3 linked regions of the Homo sapiens genome follow. The protein of the gene in region 1 interacts with the protein of each later gene in a pairwise test. Each region holds a gene or a part of one and is shown in the gene's direction. Other genes may lie near its edges. The genes, in order: TACC1, ZNF48 and SH2D4A.

What was found.
Region 2: the proteins of TACC1 (region 1) and ZNF48 interact in binary tests that used the Homo sapiens proteins (3 or more experiments, as listed by UniProt).
Region 3: the proteins of TACC1 (region 1) and SH2D4A interact in binary tests that used the Homo sapiens proteins (3 or more experiments, as listed by UniProt).

What each region holds. Positions count from the first base shown.
Region 1 is NC_000008.11:38,782,776-38,790,297, forward strand, and holds the start of TACC1 (transforming acidic coiled-coil-containing protein 1), read left to right. Parts: upstream 1-4,460; 5' UTR 4,461-4,781; coding exon of another isoform or gene 4,782-4,807; coding exon 4,808-4,968; intron 4,969-5,330; exon of another isoform or gene 5,331-5,471; intron 5,472-5,928; coding exon 5,929-6,044; intron 6,045-7,522. UniProt on the Homo sapiens protein: Involved in transcription regulation induced by nuclear receptors, including in T3 thyroid hormone and all-trans retinoic acid pathways. Might promote the nuclear localization of the receptors.
Region 2 is NC_000016.10:30,390,806-30,398,497, forward strand, and holds the start of ZNF48 (zinc finger protein 48), read left to right. Parts: upstream 1-4,614; 5' UTR 4,615-4,773; exon of another isoform or gene 4,774-4,974; 5' UTR 4,975-4,989; coding exon 4,990-5,068; intron 5,069-6,524; coding exon 6,525-7,692. UniProt on the Homo sapiens protein: May be involved in transcriptional regulation.
Region 3 is NC_000008.11:19,309,529-19,316,765, forward strand, and holds the start of SH2D4A (SH2 domain-containing protein 4A), read left to right. Parts: upstream 1-4,164; 5' UTR 4,165-4,249; coding exon of another isoform or gene 4,250-4,295; intron 4,296-4,466; exon of another isoform or gene 4,467-4,551; intron 4,552-7,237. UniProt on the Homo sapiens protein: Inhibits estrogen-induced cell proliferation by competing with PLCG for binding to ESR1, blocking the effect of estrogen on PLCG and repressing estrogen-induced proliferation. May play a role in T-cell development and function.

The sequences.
Region 1 (7,522 bases):
CTTTGTGTTTGTTTTTGGTTTGCTTGTTTTCAACTTTGGATTTGTGGTGGTTGGTGGGAAGAATTAGGGATAATGTTGGGGTTATTTTTCTTCACTTAGAATAAACAGGCTGACCTAATTCTGTTTATATCTTTTGCACTCAACAACTGCTTCTTTAATATGTTTACATCACAGAGTAGAGAACTAAAGTGAACTTTCTTATAAAGTCAATAAACATATAGTCATGAATATTTGATGGGAATGAGAGAATCTCACAGAACTGGCTCTTCAATGACACTAGTGTAGTGTAAATATCTATCTATCTATCTATCTATCTATCTATCTATCTATCTATATATATATATATATATATATATATGTCCCCCCAGCTTCTCTGAAAGCTGACACAGTGTAACTCTTCTGTGTGGCAGTTCTGCTATAGGTTTGACCTGTGACCTAGGTTGAATGGTATACTTCCTGGGGAAAGCAAACTTTTCTTCTGTGATACAGAAGAAAACAGATCAATGGGTGGATATGACAAGAGTTGTTCACCAGAGCAAAGTCTGGGCAAGGGTCTTTCAGCAGACCCCAGGTGGGGGGCTCAGCCAAGTCTTTAATAAATGCAGTTTGGATCTTTGTTAATCTTCCTGGAACTCTGAAAGAGTATTTTCTTTTTTTTTTTTTTGAGATGGAGTCTCACTCTGTTGCCCAGGCTGAAGTACAGTGGCATGATCTCGGCTCACCGCAATCTCTGCCTCCCCGGTTCAAGTGATTCTCCTGCCTCAGCCTCCCGAGTAGCTGGAATTACAGGCGCCTGCCACCACACCTGGCTATTTTTATATTCTTAGTAGAGATGGAGTTTCACCATGTTGGCCAGGCTGGTCTCATACTCCTGACCTTAAGTGATCTGCCTGCCTTGGCCTCCCAAAGTGTGGGATTGCAGGCATGAGCCACCGCACCCAGCCTGAAAGAGTATTAGCTATGAACATACCCTGACACCTCTCTTTTAAAAAATTAGAAAGGAGCTTCTCTTTATAATTTTCTGTATAAATGCATTGTACACAGTCCTGATTTCGGTGTTTGGGTAGTGGAGGGAAGATTGTAATTCTATAGATGTTTGTAGTCTACAGGTAAAGGATAATTAGGTAAATATCTGATCTTGCAAGGTTAAGACTGTCATGTTAACATATTTGAATGCGGTCAGATGCTGTTATTGGCAATGTTGTCTTGATTAGACATCATCATGCCCTTGCCTGGTTAGACTGAGGTAGGGCAGAAAAGCAGATAGGGTGGCCACAGCCTCCTGTTGGCAATGGCACGTCTTCACTGACAGGGCTAGAGTGTTCCTAGTTGTGACTTTGCAACCTGTACCAGGTAAGAACGAAGCCAGGACTAGGAGCAGCAGACTGAGAGGAGTGGTCCAGCTAATGGACTCATATTCATTACTGCTTACACTAAGTTCAAGAACTTGCAGAGGAGTGATTTTCAGAAACCTTAGGCATTTATTTGCTAGTCCAGTCTCAAGAAGTTGCTGCAGGCCGGGTGCGGTGGCTCACACCTATAATCCCAGAACTTTGGAAGTGGGTGGATCACCTGAGGTCAGGAGTTCAAGACCAGCCTGGCCAACATGATGAAACCCCGTCTCTACTAAAAAATAAAAAAATTAGCTGGGCATGGTGGCAGGAACCTGTAATCCCAGCTACTTGGGAGGCTGAGGCAGGGAGAATCGCTTGAACCCAGGAGGCGGAGGTTGCAGTCAGCTGAGACTGCACCACCGTGCTCCAGCCTGGGTGACAGAGTGAGACTCCATCTCAAAAAAAAAAAAAAGTAAATTGCTGCATAGGTGAGGCTTAATCTTACTGGGGCCATCACTTGGTCCTGGGTTCTGTTATTTTCTGGCCCAGAAACTAGATTTCCCCAGGGGGAGTCAGGCTTTAGGAATTTATGTCACCTTAGCCAAACTCACAAGGACTATTTGTAAACTAGAATGTTTGTTTTTTCTTACATATATATTGAACACCTACTGAGTGTGTGGTTCTGTCCTAATTTCTGGAGGAAGTCCCAAAGGGGGGTAAAGTCCCTTTAGAAGCTTGTGGGACAGATATGTAAATAAATATGTTATATATGGTGTGCTAAGTGTAGAATGGCCTTACATCCTGGTCTTCTGGAGACAGTCCTGGTTTATGCCTATAGTCCCTGTGTAACTATTAAGAATGCTGTCTTTCACTTTCAGATCTAAGGCCACAGGAAGTGTTCTTTATGGATGTTCGGGGTATAGAAATGATAGAAAGGAAGGACAATGAGCCTGCTTCCCCCTGTAGACACTTGAGCTAAGTGCTGAAGGACGTTCGAGCAGCTGAAGCCTGGGAACTTGGGGTGGGCTGGGGTGGGGGAGGAGGTGTGTTCCAGGAATTCGCAAAGCTCCCTCTGCAGGCAAAGGGAGACTGTTCCCGAAGCAGTAAGCAGTTGGTTCAAGCTAGGCACTGTTTCCCAAATTTACCCTGTGATAACAGTTCCCCAGGACACTTAGTGAACACACAGATTTCCAGACTCTGCTGGCAATTTGGATTTTTTTAAGAAGGCTGGCGGATGATTCTTGGGCATATTAAAGATTGACAACGAGTTCTCTACTCACTGTGGCTAGGAATACAAAAGGATGGGCATAGAGGGGAATGGGAACCGAAAGATTAGAGCACGAGTCACTGATCAGCCAGGCAGGGGTGACCTCAGGCAAGAAAACCTTCAGAGGTAAAACCAGGTGGGAGTTATTTACAGTAGATCATGAAAGATGGGGAGTGCGGGAACTATGTCAGTCACCACAGGGATGCAAAGGAATGAAAAGATAAGAGAACTATTCAGGAGGAAGAACAGGTCCTAGTGTATGCTAGTTACTGATTTGCTGGGGTAATATTATTTCCCAGAAACAGAACCCTGTGTCAAATCCAGGAGCCTGGGGGACTGTAGAACCTGAAGTTTTACTGGGTAAGCATAAACCTAAAACTACAACAGTTGGATAAGTGGTGTGATATATTTCACATGGACCTCCTGCCTAGTTCACTTCTTTATAGTCGCTAGAACACTCATGACAATTTATTTCTGGGAAGAAGCCAGGATGAATTCGAAAGCATCCTGACACCCCACCCCTTTCTTTTCTCTAGACTTCAGGTTAACTCCTGCCCTTCGGTTTTGGTAAAACTACCCTGCCAAGCCTTATCTTGTATTTTGCTCCTGTTTTTGTTATCAAATGTGTAAAACAGTCACGATGAATATACATGCCAACTGCTTTCAGAGGCAACGGTTAGTCTCTTGCAAGTTTCAACGTGCACATTTTGGAGCTGCTGTCTCTGTGGGAACCTGCAGGCACCTCATGGATGCACCACAACTCGGAAATTACAGTACCACCTGGAACACCTTATCCAGGCAAGGAGATCATTAAGCCTGGTGTTTGAGGCAATCGATTCACTTGGAAGAAGGTGCTTTGGTGGTTTTGAGAGGAACAATCCCTACATGAAATCCCTCCATGGGAAATGGAGAACATCAGCTATTTCCCATTGCCTTCAAACCTAAAGATGTCGCCAGGCCTCTTGGCTTGTTACTGAAGCAGCGAAATAAGTCAGAAATCAAAGACTTAGAAGTTACGAAAAGAAAATCTCAAAAAGGAGAATGGGGTCAGGCGCGGTGTCAGGCCTGGAATCCTAGCATTTTGGGAGGCAGAGGCGGGAGGATCGCTTGTGGCCAAGAGTTCAAGACCAGCCTGGGCAACATATCGAGACGCCTGTCTGTATTTTAAATAAATAAATATGGAGAATGGGAAACCCATCAGGCTGTAATCTCACAGGGAATTTAGTACCCTTTACCTAAGACAAGACCTGGGCACTTGGGAAGCCTCCCCGAGTGCGGTTTGGGGAGGGGGAGGGCATCTTAAATTCCAGTCCTCGGTCACTCTTGTGGCTTTGCCAAGGGATTTTCAAATCCCGGGAATGCCAGGGATGGAGATGAACAGGCTGAAATCCCCCACGCTGCCAGGGTTAGGGAGGGGAAAACAACAGTCCACAGCGGCCGCGAAGGTTTGTATTTTTTTTTTTTTGGTAACAAGGGGCTTGTGTGCAGTCCAATATCACCATCGCCGTGAAGTCACAGTGGCAAGATGAAAATGTTTAAAAAAATTTTAAAAAGGAATAAGGAAAGAGGAAGAGGACAGCGTGCCCCGGCTCAGAAAACGGTCCTCCTCTGCCCCGGACGCCGGCGGACCTGTGGGGTATGACCGAATCTCCCCGCGCAGCCGGCAAGCCCCGGCCCTCAGTCGGGCCGCGACCAGCGTGACGCCGCGGTAGGGGGATCCGGCGGGCGCGCGGCCGTCTTCAAAGCCCCGGCGCCGCCGCCGCCCCCGCGCGCGCGCGCGAGTAGTACGGTCCGAGGGGGCGGCTTCTGGGGCGCGGCTCCGGCGGCAGCTGATGCGCGCCCCGCCGGCCGGGAGGCGGGAGTCCGCGAGCCGGGAGCGGGAGCAGCAGAGGTCTAGCAGCCGGGCGCCGCGGGCCGGGGGCCTGAGGAGGCCACAGGACGGGCGTCTTCCCGGCTAGTGGAGCCCGGCGCGGGGCCCGCTGCGGCCGCACCGTGAGGGGAGGAGGCCGAGGAGGACGCAGCGCCGGCTGCCGGCGGGAGGAAGCGCTCCACCAGGGCCCCCGACGGCACTCGTTTAACCACATCCGCGCCTCTGCTGGAAACGCTTGCTGGCGCCTGTCACCGGTTCCCTCCATTTTGAAAGGGAAAAAGGCTCTCCCCACCCATTCCCCTGCCCCTAGGAGCTGGAGCCGGAGGAGCCGCGCTCATGGCGTTCAGCCCGTGGCAGATCCTGTCCCCCGTGCAGTGGGCGAAATGGACGTGGTCTGCGGTACGCGGCGGGGCCGCCGGCGAGGACGAGGCTGGCGGGCCCGAGGGCGACCCCGAGGAGGAGGATTCGCAAGCCGAGACCAAATCCTTGAGTTTCAGGCAAGTACACGGCGTCCCCGCTGAGATGCAGACGCGCTTGCCTCCATCCATCTGCGACTCCCTCTGTGTGCGTGTGTGTGGTCGCCACCCGCGAAACCGTCCTCACGGCCGTGCCGCGTCCCTGCCCGGAGCCGGGTCCCCGTGTGCGTCCGAAAGTTCAGGATCTTCTGTCCTCCCGTGGGGTTTCTGGCCCCCGTTTCGCTAGGAGAGTTCCGCACCCAACCCAGAATCTGCAGTCTCTCCGCATCCCCGCTGGCCTCGGTCACTTTCTCTAAGCTTCGACCCCCAGCCCCCGCCCCTCCACACTGGAGCAACGTCACTGATCTAACCCAGTGCAACTTAGGGCCCCCCCGTGGGGAAGAAGTCGCTCCCCGGCCCTTCCCGGGGCCCTACCGTGTACCCAAAACGCAGCCGCGGTGAAGAAGGTCGCGTGATGACAGGCCCCTGGCAGCTGCTGGGAAATGGTGGTCTCTGCCGGGCTGTCATCCGCGTGATTGCGGAAGGCAGGTGACACCATTCTTAGCCTCGGGCCCAGGGAGTTCCAGCAGGTAGAGGCCTACCGAGCAAAGAGGAATGCCTAGCATCGGCCTAACTCGGGGGTGGGACCAGTATTAATTGTTAAAGCCTCTGGGAAAGGGCTCTTGTGACAAAAGGAGTCTGTTGGAAAAGCGCATTTTTCAGGTGTCTGAGGGAAGGATGACCTCGAAAATAAATGGTGCTGGAGAAAAGCTCCAGGGAATGGAGGAGCTTTCAGAGAGACAGGATGCCAGCCTGAGAAACCCAAGGAGGGCACTGCTCAGAGACCGCAGTTGCCTCCCGCAGGTCAGACCCTGCTGAGGACCGGTTGGTTGTGAAGTTAGACAAAAGTGCTGGACTTTTAGCCTCTGTGAATATGTAGATTTCAAAGGGTGTCGGAAATACCGTTGAAAGTGGTAATTCCTCATTTTTCCTCCTTGGCAGCTCGGATTCTGAAGGTAATTTTGAGACTCCTGAAGCTGAAACCCCGATCCGATCACCTTTCAAGGAGTCCTGTGATCCATCACTCGGATTGGCAGGACCTGGGGCCAAAAGCCAAGGTAAAGAAAAACTTGCATTTTTCCTGCCTGTTTTGTTTCAAAAGTTTTGAAAAATATCAATGAAGGAAGGAAAAAAGTGTAAATTTAGGACCATTTAAGAGAGTTTGACTAAGAAAGAGCTGTTTGAAACCTCCTGGCTTATGTATTTTTAGGGGTGTGGTGATCGAGGCTTTCTCCTCTGAGTAGAGTTTGTGCATTTGCAGTATAAGATTATCATTATCAAACATTCCTACTAGGCCTTTCTCCTCAGCCCCTAAAAAAATATGTATAGTAATGAAGTAGGAAGATCATGTTTATATTTGACTTCACAAATTCCTCAGGCTAAGTTGCTTTCTACTGGGGTGTGGCTGGAGACAAAAATTACAGGTAAGACTTGACTTAATTTTTGATAGGGAGGTTCTTAAGAGGCTTTTTCGGAATCACTCACCTCGCCCACTTCCATGCAGGGATGTGGTGAGAGCCCTTCAGTCTACTTAGGAAAACCTGGCACATGGATTCCCTCCCAGCCCCTCAGAGCCCAGCCCTTCATCTGCAGGAGCTTCCGTTGTCTCACTTAATTAGTAGAAACCTTTTTTGTCACACAGCCAGTTCAGAATAAAATTTCACCTATCCCAACAGAATTCATATGCTTATTTACTAAATAGAGTGCACTGTGATTCAGCAGTGAAGTCCTGCTCTCTCGAGCTAACATTGTGGAGGGAGAACCTGTGAAGGGTTAAGCAAAATATCTATGTCAGCTTGTGTGAAGCACTGTGGAGAAAAATAAAGCAGGGGAAGAGAATAGGGAATATGGAGTGGGGATAGGGAAGGCTGAAGGGGAGTTAGTGGGGGCATTCATGATTAGGTGACTTGAACAGAGACCTGAAGGCAGATTGAGGGAGCAGGCCTTGGAGGTTCCTGAGGTGGGAACCCTTCCAGCAGAAGGAGTGGCATCTGCAAAGGTCTGACAGCACCAGCCTGCTGCAGGGAGGCCGTAAGGTGGAGGGTTCATGGTACAGTTTGAGGACCAGCCAGGAGGTCAGTGTGGACTGACTACTCAGAGAGCAGGAGGAGCTGAAGTCAGCGTGGTCAGAGGAGGTCCAGATGCTGCTGCAGTGAGGATTTGGTTTTCAGTAAGGTGGAAAGCCACTGGAGGGCATATGCATTTCCAAGGGCTGCCATAACAGAGTAACTTAGCGGCTTACAATAACAGAAATTATTCTCTCACAGTCCTGGATAATTGAAATCAGAACCAGAAGTCTCAAGTCAAGGTGTTGGCAGGGCCTTGCTCTTCTGAAGGCTCCAGGAAGTCTGTCCTTGCCTCTTCTAGCCTCTGCTGGGTGTCTGCAATCCTTTGTGTTCTTTGGCTTGTGGCAGCAGAACTCCAGTCTCTGTCTCAACACATGGCCATCTTCTCCCTATGTATCTGTCTTACCGTGCCCTTCCTGTGAGGACACCAGTCGTTGAAGTTAGGGCCCACCCTAATCCAGTTTGACCTC
Region 2 (7,692 bases), on another chromosome or scaffold:
AGTAGAGACGGGGTTTCACCGTGTTAGCCAGGATGCTCTCGATCTCCTGACCTCGTGATCTGCCCACCTCAGCCTCCCAAAGTGCTGGGATTACAGGCGTGAGCCACCGCGCCTGGCCAGAGACAGGGTTTCAATGTGTTAGCCAGGATGGTCTCGATCTCCTGACCTCGTGATCTGCCCACCTTGACCTCCCAAAGTGCTGGGATTAGAGGCGTGAGCCACTGCGCCCGGCCGAATAAACTTACATTCTATCTTCATCTTTCACTGCTTTCCTAATATGTAAACTCACGGCACATTAAAACGGAACTATTCTCTATTTTCCTCTCTGAAGATAGGTCGTAATCCATAGTCATCTTTGGATCTCAAGCTTCTAGCACACATTAGGTTTTCTTTTATTTTTATTTTTTGAGACGGAGTCTCACTCTGTCGCCCAGGCTGGAGTGCAGTGATCTCTGCTCACTGAAACCTCTGCCTCCCGGGTTCAAATGATTCTCCTGCCTCAGCCTCCTGAGTAGCTGGGATTACAGGTGAGCACCACCACCTCCAGCTAATTTTTTTATTTTTAGTAGAGACAGGTTTTCACCATGTTGGTCAGGCTGGTCTCCAACCCCTGACCTCATGATCCGCCCGCCTCAGCCTACCAAAGTGCTGGGATTACAGGCGTGAGCCACTGCTCCTGGCAGTCTTTTTCTTTTCTTTTTTTTTTTTTAAACAGAGTTTTGTTCTGTTGCCCAGAACGGAATGCAGTGGTGTGATCTCAGCTCACTGCAACCTCCGGCTCGCGAGTTCAAGCGATTCTCCTGCCTCCGCCTCCCGAGTAGCTGGGATTACAGGCGCGTACCACCACATCTGGCTAATTTTTGTATTTTTTAGTAGAGATGGGGTTTCACCATGTTGGCCAAACTGGTCTCGAACTCCTGACCTCAGGTGATTCACCTGCCTCAGCCTCCCAAAGTGTGGGGATTATAGGCGTGAGCCACTGATTCCAGCCTAAGGTTTTCTTTCTCTTTCCTTTTCTTTCTCCTTTTTTTTTGGCGGGGGGGTGGGGGTGGGATAGGGTCTTGCTCTGTCACCCAGGCTGGAGTGCAGTGGCATGATCTCAGCTCCCTGCAACTTTCACCTCCCGCGCCCAAGAGATCCTCTCACCTCAGCCTCCCAAGTAGCTGGGACTACAGGTGTGCACCACCACTCCCAGCTAACTTTTTTGTATCTTTTTATTTATTTTATTTTTTCCTGAGGCGGCGTATCGCTCTGTCGCCCAGGCTGGAGCGCAGTGGCGCGATCTCGGCTAACTGGAAGCTCCGCCTCCCAGGTTCACGCCATTCTCCTGCTTCAGCCTCCTGAGTATCTGGGACTACAGGCGCCTGCCACCACGCCCATCTAATTTTTTTGTATTTTTAGTAGAGACGGGGTTTCACTGTGTTAGCCAGGATGGTCTCAATCTTCTGACCTCGTGATCCACCCACATCGGCATCCCAAAGTGCTGGGATTACAGGAGTGAGCCACCGCCCCCGGCCCTGTATCTTTTTAGAGATGGGTTTTCACCATGTTGGCCAGGCTGGTCTCAAACTGCTGGACTCAAGAGACCTGCCCACCTCAGCCTCCCGAGGTGTTGGGATTACAGGCGTGAGCCACCATGCCTGGCCCATATTAGGTTTTCAATTAGTATGTGGCCCACTGTTTATTCAGCCCCCACTGCCTGGAGTTGTTCATTCAGCCCCCACTCCAGGCAGAGTCTGGACTTTGCCGAAATCAAACCAATTAGAGTAATAGCTGATACTTTTGCTAAGTGCTTTACACATATTCATCCTCAACCATCAAAGTTAGCTGTTATCATCCCTATTTTACAGTTTGGGAAACAGAAGCTTAAGTAACTTCCCTAAAGTCAAGTAGCAATTAAGTGACAAAGGCCAAGAACCACACTCTGCATAAATGGCTTTAAAGACAGTATCTGCACCCACTGAACACTACAGAAGGTATCTCTGTGCGCTACACTCCTATAAAATTTTGTCCATACAGTCAATATAGAACCTGTCACACCATCTGACAACTCCATATCCTATTGGGCCAAGAGCTCCCTGAAGAGTTTCTTTATTTCCAGGGCCTAGGACAGTGTTTAGGTATTAGCTAGTGATCAATAGGTATGTGTTGATTTCTGGTCCCTGTTTCTGTCAGTGCTAACATCCATGCATGCCAGGCACACAGAGATTCATTACTACAAACTAGAACCCTTCCTGTTCTCCCACACTATCGTGAATTGGTCCATATAACTCTTTTTTTTTTTTCTTGAGATGAAGTCTCGCTCTTGTCCCCCAGGCTGGAGTGCAATGGCGCGATCTCAGCTCACTGCAACCTCCGCCTCTGGGGTTCAAGTGATTCTCCTGCCTCAGCCTCCCAAGTAGCTGGGATTACAGGCGCCTGCCACCACGCCCTGCTAATTTTTTTATTTTTAGTAGAGATGGGGTTTCACCATGTTGGCCAGGCTGGTCTGGAACTCCTGACCTCAAGTGAGCTCCTGCCTCTGGCTCCCAAAGGGCTGGGATTACAGGTGTGAGGCACCACACCCGGCCTTTTAAATTTTATTTATTTATTTTTTTGAGACGCAGTCTGACTCTGTCACCCAGGCTGGAATGCAGTGGCGTGATCTCGGCTCTTTCCAACCTCCGCCTCTCAGGTTCAAGTGATACTCCTGCCTCAGCCTCCTGAGTAGCTGGGATTACAGGCCCGTGCCACCACGCCCTGCTAAGTTTTGTATTTTTAGTAGAGACAGGGTTTCACCATGTTGGCCAGATTGGTCTCAAACTCCTGACCTCATGTAATTCACCTGCCTCGGCCTCCCAAAGTGTTGGGATTACAGGTGTGAGCCACTGCACCTGGCCGGGTCCATATAACTACCTTAACAGTCTCTCTTTCTTTCTCTTTTTTTTTTAGATGGGGTCTCGCTCTATTACCCAGGCTGAAGGGCAGTGTCACAAATATGGTTTACTGCAGCCTCAACCTCCTGGGCTCAGGTGATCCTCCTGCCTCAGTCTCCAGTGTAGCCAGGACCACAGATATGTGCTACCATGCGCTGCTAAATTTTTGTTTTTTTTTTGTAGAGACAAGGTCCACTTTTTTGCCTAGGCTGGTTTCGAACTAGTGGCCTCAAGTGATCCTCCCACCTTGGCCTCCCAAAGTGCTGGGATTACAGGCATGAGCCACTGGGCCCAGCCCATTCTCTCTCTCTTTTTTTTTTTTTTTAAAGAGACAGGGTCTCGCTCTGTTGCCCAGCATGGAGTACAGTGGCACGATCCACGATCATGGCTCACTGCATCCTTGAATGCCCAGGTTCAGGGAATCCTCTCAGCTGGGATTACAGGGGCAGGCCACCAGGCCCAGCTAAATTCTCTAATTTCAGTGATTTGTGTACTTGCTCCTTTAGACTGGTAGCTCTCCAAGGACAAATCTTGCAGGTGTTTCAACTTTTTATCCCCAACTCTTGGCTTAGCACTAAGATGCTAATAAATGTGAATTAATGCATAAACCACAGTTACCCCCACCATCATTGGCAGAGGGGCTGAAGACACCTCCAGACACTCTCTCCACCCCAAAACCAAGCCCGCCCAGAGAGCGGATACTGGGATCTTGCTCCTAGGGCCTGGGAACCTGGAAACACAGCTCCAGCCAGGGGCCCACCAGGATGGGAAACAGGGCTTGTTCTTCAGCCTCTCCCTGAGCCTGGCCTCTATAGGGCTGCCGACCTGTCCGGAGTCTTTCTGGCCGCCTCTTTCTTTGTGTCTCTTTCTCTTTGTCTCTGCCCGTTTCGCTCACTATCGTCTTTTGTTCCTCTGCTTCTGGGCCTGTTACTCTCCAGGCTCCCAGCCTCTTACTGCTCCTCGGACTCTGCGTCAATGACTTTATCTCTTATCCGTTTCTACGTCTCTGTCTCTAGCGGCTAATCTTTGGCTCCCCTTATTTTTGGTCAGCCGCTGTCCCTCGGTCTCTCTCTGCCTTTGCGTCCTCTGTGACTCAGGGCTCTGATGTGAGTCTCTGGCTCAGGGTCTCTGTTCCGGGCCCCAGGTCTGATTCCATCTCTCCAGCAGCATTTACCCGGTGTCTGCCTCTAGCCTCTGCTCCTGCCTCGGTCTCCCCAGCCCAGCCCCCATTCCATACCCACCCCCACCCCGGGCCCTCGGCCTCTCGGACCAGCCCCGCTTTGTTTCCCACGTCTCGGCGCCCCGCCCCGCCCCGTCTGGGGTCTCCGCCGCCCTTTGTCTGCCTTGGTCTCTCCCCCACCCCTTTCCCCGGGTCCGTCTTTGGATCCCTCTTTCTTTGTCTCTCCCAGGTCGGAGTGGCTGGCGCTGTCGGCCGGCCGGGGAGGTCGGCGCGGGTGGCTGGAGACACACAGCCACAATTACGAAGAGCCTCGGGCCTCACCACCCAGCTGCAGCCCAGGAGGCACACGGTTAATACCACCGAGTTCGGGCCGCCGGCCTCGGCTTAGAGTAGCCCCTGGGCCGCACGCTGCCGCCCGCCGGCCACAGAGCTACCGCCGACGCGGGCGACCCCCACAGGCCCGCAGCTCCTCCAAGGTCCTAGAGCGGCTCCGTGCGGCCCCGCGCTTCCGCTTCCCGTCCCCGCCCCCGGTGGCCGCCCCCGGGACGCCTGGGTCCGAGCCCGCTCCCGGCTTGGCGCGGAGCCTGCATCCCGGAGCCGCTGGCGGCTCGGGCGCCTGCACCCCGCTGAGGAGCTCCGGAGGGCGCCGGGGTGGCGGAGCCGGAGGCGGCCGGCAAGGTGAGAGCGGCGGCTGCGCGCTGGGAGGAGCAGCAGGTGCAGGGGCGGCCGGCGGCGCGGGCAGGGGGCACCGGGAGCCGCGCCCGTACCTGGGACCCGACGCCGCCCGGTGCCCGCGCTGGCCGGCAGAGGGCAGCGGCAGGGCGCCGCGGGCCACACATGGCTGCGTGACCGCGGGATGCTGTCTGTCCCCTTGCTCAGGGCGGCGTGCCGGCGATGGAGCGCGCGGTAGAGCCTTGGGGCCCAGATCTCCACCGCCCGGAGGAGAGGGAGCCACAGAGAGGCGCCCGCACAGGTGAGGGCCTCGGCCGTGCGCCGCCACGGACAGGTAACGGCCGGTGGGGACTGCGATGCTTGGCTGTGGCCGGCCGAGATCCTGGAAGATCGGACGTGAGCTGTGCCTCTGGGGAGATAGGGGGAGGGGAGCTTTCGGAGCACCAACTGTGCGCCAGGCCGGGAGGGGCTCTTCACGGCCTCTGTCCCCTCCCTCACGGCCTTCCTCATCCTTACTGCCTCTGCCCTACTTCAGGCTTCATTCTGTTTTATCCTGGCAATTGCAGTAGCCTCCTCTCTGCCCCTTTCTCTCCACTGATGCATTCTCTCGCCAGCTTGATCTAAGTCCAGATATAATCCTGTGTCTCTTCTGGAAAACCTTCCCTAGCGTCCCCCAGTCTCCTAATTAAAAGCCTTAGCTAGTGTCCAATCCAAACCGTGCGTGCTCAGGTTAGTCCCAACATCCTTTGACACCTTATCTTCCATTCCACTCCATTATTTTCTCTTCGCTCTGCCGTAATGCCGGTTCCTATTTCCTTATCTCCTATCTCTCTTGTGACAACATAGTTATTCTAGTTATTCTGCACCCACAATTATAACCATTGATACTTTAATCTTATCTCTCCTACCACCCTAAGCTTCTTGAGGAAGGGATGTGTGCCTGGGTCCTCTCAGGTACACACAGGATAACTGATGTAATAAATTACCGAATGGGCTAATATAATAAGATACAATAATAATAGCAAATACCAAGTTTTCCAAATAGACAATATAATGTAGGGATTAACACGGGCTTGAGTGTCAGAGAGACCTTAGTTAGACATCACGCTTTGCTACTTTTTTTTTTTTTTTTTTTTTTTGGCGACAGGGTCTCACTGTGTCACCCAGGCTAGAGTGGCACAATCACAGCTCACTGCAGCCTCCACCTCCTGGGCTCAAGTGATCCTCCTACCTCAGCCTCCCAGTAGCTGGGACTACAGGTGTGCACCACCATGCCCAGCTAATTTTTGTATTTTTTTTTGTAGAGTTAGGGTCTCACCATGTTGCCCAGGCTGGTTTCTAACTCCTGGGCTTAAGTGATCCACCCACCTCGGCCTCCCAAAGTGCTAGGATTACAGGTGTGAGCCACCCTGCTGGCCTGGCTTTGCTACTTTCTAACCTTTATAACCTCCAGCAAAAGGACTTAAATTCTCTGAGTCTTTCCATGCCTGTAATATGGGGATAGTCATAGTGTTATAGTATTGTTTGCAAGCGTTTAATACTAATGCTGAGTTTGGTGAATGACATACATTAAGGGCACAGTAAAAAGAAGTTTTTATTGAGAGGCACAGATAGTAAGTGCACCAGAGGTTGAGAGGACAGAGAGATTGGGGTTCCTGTGACCACAGATTGTCAAGGGAGTCTTCCTGGAGAGGTTGCTGTCAAAGATAAGTACCGAGCCAAAGGGGAGGGTCTACAACTTCCTTTTCTTTCCTCAGGTCTAGGGAGTGAGAACGTGATTTCTCAGCCGAATGAGTTTGAACATACCCCACAGGAAGATGACTTGGGGTTCAAGGAAGAAGATTTGGCTCCAGATCATGAAGTAGGAAATGCCTCTCTCAAACCTGAAGGCATCCAGAACTGGGATGACTTATGGGTCCAGAGAGAGGGTCTAGGAAAGCCTCAGCCTCGGGACAGAGGCCCCCGGCTCCTGGGTGAACCACGCTGGGGCCAGGCTAGTAGTGATCGGGCCGCTGTGTGTGGTGAGTGTGGCAAAAGCTTCAGGCAGATGTCAGATCTGGTGAAACACCAGCGGACCCACACAGGGGAGAAACCCTACAAGTGTGGGGTCTGTGGCAAGGGCTTTGGGGATAGCTCTGCCCGGATCAAACACCAGCGGACTCATAGTGGGGAGAAGCCCTATAGAGCCCGGCCACCAGCCCAGGGTCCCCCAAAGATTCCTCGGTCCCGGATCCCTGCTGGTGAGCGCCCCACTATCTGTGGTGAATGTGGCAAGAGCTTCCGGCAGAGTTCTGACCTGGTGAAACACCAGCGGACACACACTGGTGAGAAGCCCTACAAGTGTGGCATATGTGGCAAGGGCTTTGGCGACAGTTCCGCCCGCATCAAGCACCAGCGGACACACCGGGGGGAGCAGCCCCCCCGACCAGTGGTGCCCCGACGGCAGCCATCTCGGGCAGCCACGGCAGCTACCCAGGGACCGAAGGCCCAGGACAAGCCATATATCTGCACTGATTGCGGCAAGAGGTTTGTGCTCAGCTGCAGCCTCCTGAGTCACCAGCGTAGTCACTTGGGGCCCAAGCCCTTTGGCTGTGATGTGTGTGGAAAGGAGTTTGCCCGGGGATCCGACCTGGTGAAGCACCTGCGGGTGCACACGGGTGAGAAGCCCTACCTCTGCCCAGAGTGCGGCAAAGGTTTCGCGGACAGCTCCGCCCGAGTCAAACACCTCCGCACCCACAGTGGCGAGAGGCCCCATGCCTGCCCGGAATGCGACCGTACCTTCAGCCTCAGCTCCACCCTTCTTCGCCACCGCCTCACTCACATGGAGCCCCAGGACTTCAGCTTCCCAGGCTATCCCCTACCCGCTCTGATCCCCAGCCCACCCCCACCTCCTCTGGGCACCAGCCCCCCGCTGACACCTCGAAG
Region 3 (7,237 bases), about 19 Mb from region 1:
TTGCCTGTAAGAGAGAAGCTAGGAAATGGAAACGCATTTCTGAATCTGGTCCAAAAAAGAGATGAGATTTGATTTTATGAGTCTAGTAGACCTTATCAAAACTGCCTGGGAAGATCCAAGGAACACCAGAATATTAGAAAAAGTTTGCTTCTGCTCCTTTCTCAGAGCTTTGACCCATAAAAAAGCACTGGTTACCATAGGCCACTGCAGATGTCCCATATCGTTGGGATAGCGACTGTCCAATTCCACCCATAAGTTTGAGGTGAGCAGTTCTCTGAGACACGGGCTGCTTGTCACTGTATTACAGAAATATAAGAAACCACCGGGCATGGTGGCTTACACCTGTAATCCCAGCACTTTGGGAGGCTGAGGCATGCAGATCACGAGGTCAGGAGATTGAGACCAGCCTGACCAACATGGAGAAATCCTGCCTCTGCTAAAAATACAAAAAATTAGCCAGGCGTGGTGGCACACACCTGTAGTCTCAGCTACTCTGGAGGCTAAGGCAGGAGAATCACTTGAACCCGGTAGGTGGAGGTTGCAGTGAGCCAAGATCGTGCCACCACACTCCAGCCTGGAGACAGAGCGAGACTCCATCTAAAACATATATATACACACATACATACATACACACACATACATATATACACATACACATACACACACACACACACACATATATATATGTATATATATATATACACACACACATATGAGAGACCAGAAATGTCTAATTAGCAACTCAGAGTGTGGATTTTAGAGAAAGAACTCCATAAAGGTAACTCTTGGAAAAACATTAAATATTACAGTAATGTAATTGATTCAAAGATGAATGTAAAGACCAATAATTTATCTTGGTGTTTATGAAGATGAAGAAATAAAGGCCCATACAGAACCATACACAAATGAAAATAGTTCAAAATCAAATCTAACTGCTCACAGAGAGCTGAAAACACAGCAGACCCTAAATATATTTTTAATGATTGATGAACTGATTAAGATTTATTTTGAGATTTGATCAGTTTTTAGTAAAGTTTAAATGTTTTTGTATTTTTCTTTCATTTGTACGTTACATTCACTGTGGTACAAGTGTATACCTGCTCTAACAGTTAAAAAGTGGTTGAGGTTTCTGATGCTGATCATAAAATATGACAGGAAAAATACTCTATTTTATAAAGAAAACATATGAAGGCAATTTTCATTGTCTGTAGAACTGAAATAAGGATTAATCTTTATCTCAGAAAAAGTGCAAAGTGGCTTATCCTGTCTTTCTGGCAACAATAGGGCTGGCAGTGTTGCACAACTCCAGGGGGCGCCTTACACATAGTGATCTCTGTGCTTGTCCCCTGCCCACCCACAGTTGTACAAGGGCCATGCTATGCCATTTTACTTGACAGCCCTGGGCAGCAGGGCTCCTAAGCAACAGTCCAAAAGGAAGGCCAAGGAACACATCCATTAAAATGTAGGCTATTTGTTTCATGGTATTCATTACCACGAATAAATGACAAATTAAAAATATTAGTAACCAATAAATAGATGTTTAGCTTTCTCTTTAAGTTCTGGCAGTGAACGCTGCAGCAGAGCATTCCTGAACACATGTTGGTGCTACCATGTTCCATGTCTGTGACTCGTCAGTGGCCAGCCCCTGTCAGCAGTCTTCCCCACATTCGTCCCTATAACACATCCTAGATCATGGAGGGGGGAAATGTTTTCCTCTGAGAGTACTGGCCCAAAGGGAGGGAAAAAGTAACTGAAGGCCCCACAAGTAATAGGCCACCTGATTTTTTTTTAGAGCATTATAAAACATTCTTGGCCAGGCGCAGTGGCTCACGCATGTAACCCAGCACTTTGGGGGGCCAAGGTAGGCAGATCACCTGAGGTAAGGAGTTTGAGACCAGCCTGGCCAACATGGTCAAACTTAGTCTCTACTAAAAAACAAACAAACAAAAAAAAAAAACAAAAACAAAATACAAAGTTAGCCAGTTGTGGTGACAGGTGCCTATAATCCTAGCTACTTGGGAGGCTGAGGCAGGAGAATCACTTGAACTCAGGAGGCCGAGGTTGCAGTGAACCAAGATTGCATCACTGCACTCCAAGCCTGGGCAAAAAGAGTGAAACTCCATCTCAAAAAAAAAAAAAAAAAAAAAAATTCGAATTGTCTACTTTTGAAATTAAGGGAAAAACATCTACCTTTTCTCTTCCAGACCATGCCAATTAAAAGAGGAAATTCCAGGAGTCAGCAGAAAGGAAACAAAAAGAGAAGGTGATAGAGGAGAGGGGAGACCAAGTGAAGAGGATGGAGAAGAAACTATAAAAATAAGAGAAGAAGAAGAGTTCATGGCAAATATAGGAAAGAGCCACGAGACAAGAAGGATGGAAATGGGCAGATGAGAGAAAAGGGAAGAGAGTCTGGGTTCTGAGTTGTTTGCATTATTTGTGTACAGCGTGCGTTCCTTTGGGCTGTCAATATTATTTCAAGATAGAAGCACCAAGGTGTTTCCTTACCTAATCTCTGAAGTGGCAGACCATCATCACTTCTGCCGGGTTCTATTGGTCAAGCATACCAACCTTTACAAAGTGGCAGGGAGCTATGCAAGGATGTGAATACCAGGAGGATAGGATCCCTGGGAATGACTTGGAAGGTAGGTGGCATGGTGGGCAGAACCCACAGCCTAGGGTGAGATGGCAGGAATGTGGAATTCCAGTACCTTAATGTGATATGAACTGATCTGAGTGAATGTGTTTGAACACTCACCACATGCCAAGAGCTCTTCTAATCTCTTTGCATGTAGCATCTCATTTAACCCTCTTGACAACTTACCGAGGCAGACACTCTTTATCTAGAGGAGGAAAGTGAGGTACAGAGGTTAGTAGCACAGTGATAAAGCTGTTATAAGGAAGGACTTGCCAGGACCTGGAGAGAGACTGGGTGTGAGGAAGGTAGGCTGTCACAGTGTCCTGTGGGATTTTTCCTAACTGATAAACCACCCTGTATGGTTCAACTGATGCATCCATGCAGGGCTAGGATTCATTCTGACCTCGTCATAGCAGCTTTCCAGGGGCCAATCCCACTCCAGCCTAAAGCACCCCATATGCTATCATTTAAACTGCAGTAGGAACTAAGCCTTACACCAGAAATTCCTCCCTGATGGGATTCCTGGAATTGTTCCTAAATAGCTGGGTCTTATTTCCTGACAATGCCGCCTGCCCCGAGGCTTGATGTAACTCTGCACAGCTTCTGCAGTTTGGAGAGGCAGGGAAATGCCATTTTGTGTTTGAATCCAGCAGGTCAGGCTCCTAAAGAGGTCAGGTAGTCCGTGGAGAGGACTACTGGTGTTTACTGTTTATTACATCTCTCCCAATACACAAAATCTGGGGTTCACCAAAGCAGGCGGTTTTCTTCCACATGCTCCTCTAGGATGGAAAATGCCCTCCAGTGGAAATGCCTTTCCACTGTGCTTCTGCTCAATTTTCCTCCAAGATTTCCTCTAACTGTGGACTGCCAGCTCCTCCCTGACGTCTTCAGGCACCAAGCCAACCTGTTCTTGTTGCAATCCTCAAGACTCCTTTCAGCATCTTAACTTTTCCCCCAGTTTTCTTTCATTTTCTCCACCTGTCTGTGTTGACTGCGGTCTCCTTCCTTCCAGCCTTTTCCTTCCTTCATCTTGTCCTACAAAGCCACACGTGTACCGACAAGTGCCAAAGAGTTTGATCATTTACTTAATGTCAACAAAAGAAAAAAAAAAAAAGCTCCAGAGTCGCCTTGGCCTGCAGCACCCAAGCAGAGTGAACAAGTGGGGCCTGCGCACCCTCCTACCCTACACCTAGCAAGGAACCCCGAGCTCTGAAACGTGGAAAGGCCCAGATCTGCAGATTTAATCTAAGTCCTGCAGTCCCCAAGAGATCACAGACTGCAGATCCCTGTCTCATGAACTAAGAGAGGAGAGGACAAGCCTACCCCGGACTACCGCAGCTCGGGGACAGCGCGCGGGCCAGGCGGCCCGAGATGCGCAGGCCACGCAGCCTCGCCGACGAGTGGCCCTGGAGAGCCTCCAGGCGCCCGGGTGGGGCCGCGATTGCGCCCCGCCAGTCACCCCGGCATGTGGGCGCGGCGGGGCGGCGCGGGCGGGACGGCTACAAGAGCTGTTTTGCGTCCGGGCCGGAGTATTTGCTCAGCCCGCCTGCGCCGCTTGGGACGCCTCTGCCTTTCCCTCCCTCCCTTCCCCGACGGCTTCTGGCGGCCAAGTGGATGTGGCGGGTGATCGAGCCACCCTGCCCAGGGGCGCCCAGCACTGGTAGGTGCTGGGGGTGGGGCGAGGCTTTGGGGAGAGTGTGCGTGGGGTGGGAGTAGGGGGAAGGGAATTTCCTCGGAGGTTGCATGGGTGCATGGGAGGCGCAGGGGCCAGAGCGGGCGGGCGGAAGCCTCACCCCCGCCTCCACCCCTTCGCGGCGCCCGGGGCGGGCTCAGGTGCGGGGTTGGGCGGCGAGAGCGGCCGCGGCGGGTGTCCGGTGTCCGGTGTCCGGTGTCCGGTGTCTGGAGCCGCTGGCTAGGTGAGCGGCGGTCCCCGGGGCCTGGGGGCTTGCAGGGGGTGGCGGGGGAACTTCGAGGGAGAGGGTCTGCCGGGGCTGAGGACCTTCGGGGAAGTTCTGGAATCCGGCAGGGACACGCGGCGCGTGCTTCCACCCGCGGGGAGTGCAGGCCCCGGGAGGGTCCGGGCTGGCCTAGAGTTTCTAGACTCCTAGCAGGAGCACGTCCTCGACTTGCGCATGGAAATCTTCCAGGAGGGAAGTCCCGGGAAACGGTGGCAGCTGGCGCAGCACCCCCGCAGCACGTTCCCCGCGCACCGGCACCCAGGGGCGCCCCCACGTGGGGTCTGGGAGCGCGCGGAGGCCAGTGCAGCGCCGCCTCCCTCGGGCTGCAGCGGCGGGGCTGGCCCAGACCCAGACCGGGTGCCCAGTGCGCTCAGCCAAGCGGCGCCCCTGCCCGCTCCTGGACTCGGGGGTCACGCGGGCACCGGAAGGAGCTACAGTTTGTAGGTTTTCTGAGTTGTCTCTCCCTTCCCAGGGAGCTTAGAGAAGCAGCAAGCGTGGCACCTCCCCCTTTCAAACAGATGCTCCTCATCGCTCCAAAGGCTTTCGTTTGATTGCTGGTTTAATAGAAACAACGACTTGGGTACGATTATTTTAAAATAGTGAATAAATAAGTGGAAAGCATACAGGGGCATAGATTTGGCATATGAGTGGAATTCTCTATGTATACTAAATCTGTGTGTACAGTAATCTCAAATTTCTGAAGAATAGTATATATTTACAAACTGCTGTCATCTCTGGTAATTTGTTTCATCCTCAAAAACAGCCCTTTTGCTGGTAGATGAATAAGATAAAGTTTCAATAAGAAAACAAAGTTGGACCACAGAGCTGGCTGTTTTAAAAGAATTAGAATTCAAACTGTATTGTTAATGTTATAGTTACACTGTCCATACCACAATACTTTTATTTATTTTTTATTTTATTAGGTCGGTGCAAAAGTAATTGCGGTTTTTACGTAAAAAAAACCGCAGTTACTTTTTTTTTGGCCATGTAAAACACAATAACTTTTGCACCGACCTAATGTTTTTAATTTTTGAGACAGGGTCTCCTTCTGTCACCCAGGCTGTGGTGCAGTGGTGCGATCTCGGCTCACTGTAGCCTCAAACTCTCCAACTCAAGAGATCCCCCCACCTCAACCTCCCAAGTAGGTGGGACTATAGGTGCGGGCCACCACGCCTGGCTAATTTTTATACTTTATGTAGAGACGGAGTTTTGCCATGTTGCCCAAGCAGGTCTTGAACTCCTGAGCTCCAGCAATCCACCCATGTCCACCTCCCAAAGTGTTGGGATTACATGTAGAACCACTGTGCCCGCCTACTATTTTTATGATTTAGCCTGTATCTAAGGCCTTTTAAAATTGTATTTTGTTTAGGTCTCAGAGTTATTCAAAAGACAGTTGTATTGTAGAACAGTGTGAAGGTGTGAGAATCAGGCCAAATCTATGGTATCATGGAAAACAACGGATTCTCTGACCTTTTAGCAATTGGTGTTCAGAATAAATAGCAGGTGTGGGCTTGTTGCTTATCATTTCTCTCTTTTAAGAAAGGGGCTGTGTTAGCTGAGCTATTCCTTTGTTGGATCTTGAATAACCGGAGATTTGCTGCCCTTGATATAGTATGGGAAAGTCCTCTGAGTTTGAATCAGTATCAGCAATGATTACTTCCTTGTCAGGGAGTGAAAGTAGGAAAGCCCTAGTTAGTTAATTTCCTGATTTCTATTTCTTCTACCCTGGCTCCACCAGGCTCCTTCGCTTCACAGTAGATTATGTCAGATACCCACACATTAGAAGTCACAGACTGAACCAGTCCTCGTTTCACAGATGAGGAAACTGAGTCCCAAGGAGGTGAGGTGACAGCACAGAGTCACACCGCTCACTAGAGGCGGAGCTGGGAGTTGAGGCTGGAGTGCCTCTGGGTGTCTTGGGTGTACTGTGCTGAGCTTGAGTTGGGGTCTGAGAAAGCCTTGGAGCGGGGGTTAGGGGTTGGGAATTAGAGGGTGAGGGGGACAGGTGATTTACACCAGTACCATTCAGCAGTGGCAGAATGGCCACATCGTCAACGGCCTGACCACAGATAGTTGTCGGCTGGGTCCCCCAAGTATTCTTGGAGGCACAAGGAAGCCAGTGTCTTTCCTTCAAGATGAACTAGTTAATTTTAATGTTAGAAATCCACGTTTGCTATAAAAAGTAAAACAAAACAACATAAAAATGGAAATAATGTGAGAATTTCATCACAGAGGTGCCATGAACCTCCTTGCACATGTGAGAGGCTGTGCTTTTTGTGCTGTTCTTAGTGTTTGTTTGGAAGGGGAAATTGTAGAGACGAAGTGGATGACTAAGTGCAAGGGGAAATGGGACTAAGTGTCTGGTGAATACGTGGGTAAGCAATGTCCACACCTGGGTCAGTGTGACAGTCGGTTCCTTGCTGTCCTTCCTGGCTGGGGTGTGTGCACCTGGCCTCCCCTAAGCTTAGCTACAGTTGACCAGGAGGAGGCTTCTGCCCTGTGTCAAGCACCATCAGTTCAGCGTTTCTGTTGCTGCAGGAATTTGCTGGCTTCCATTCTGAAATTTCATACATGGCACCACATCCTGCTGTTCTGATTCTGGGCACACAAATAAACTCACAAAAAGGCCTCTGTGTTGTGTATT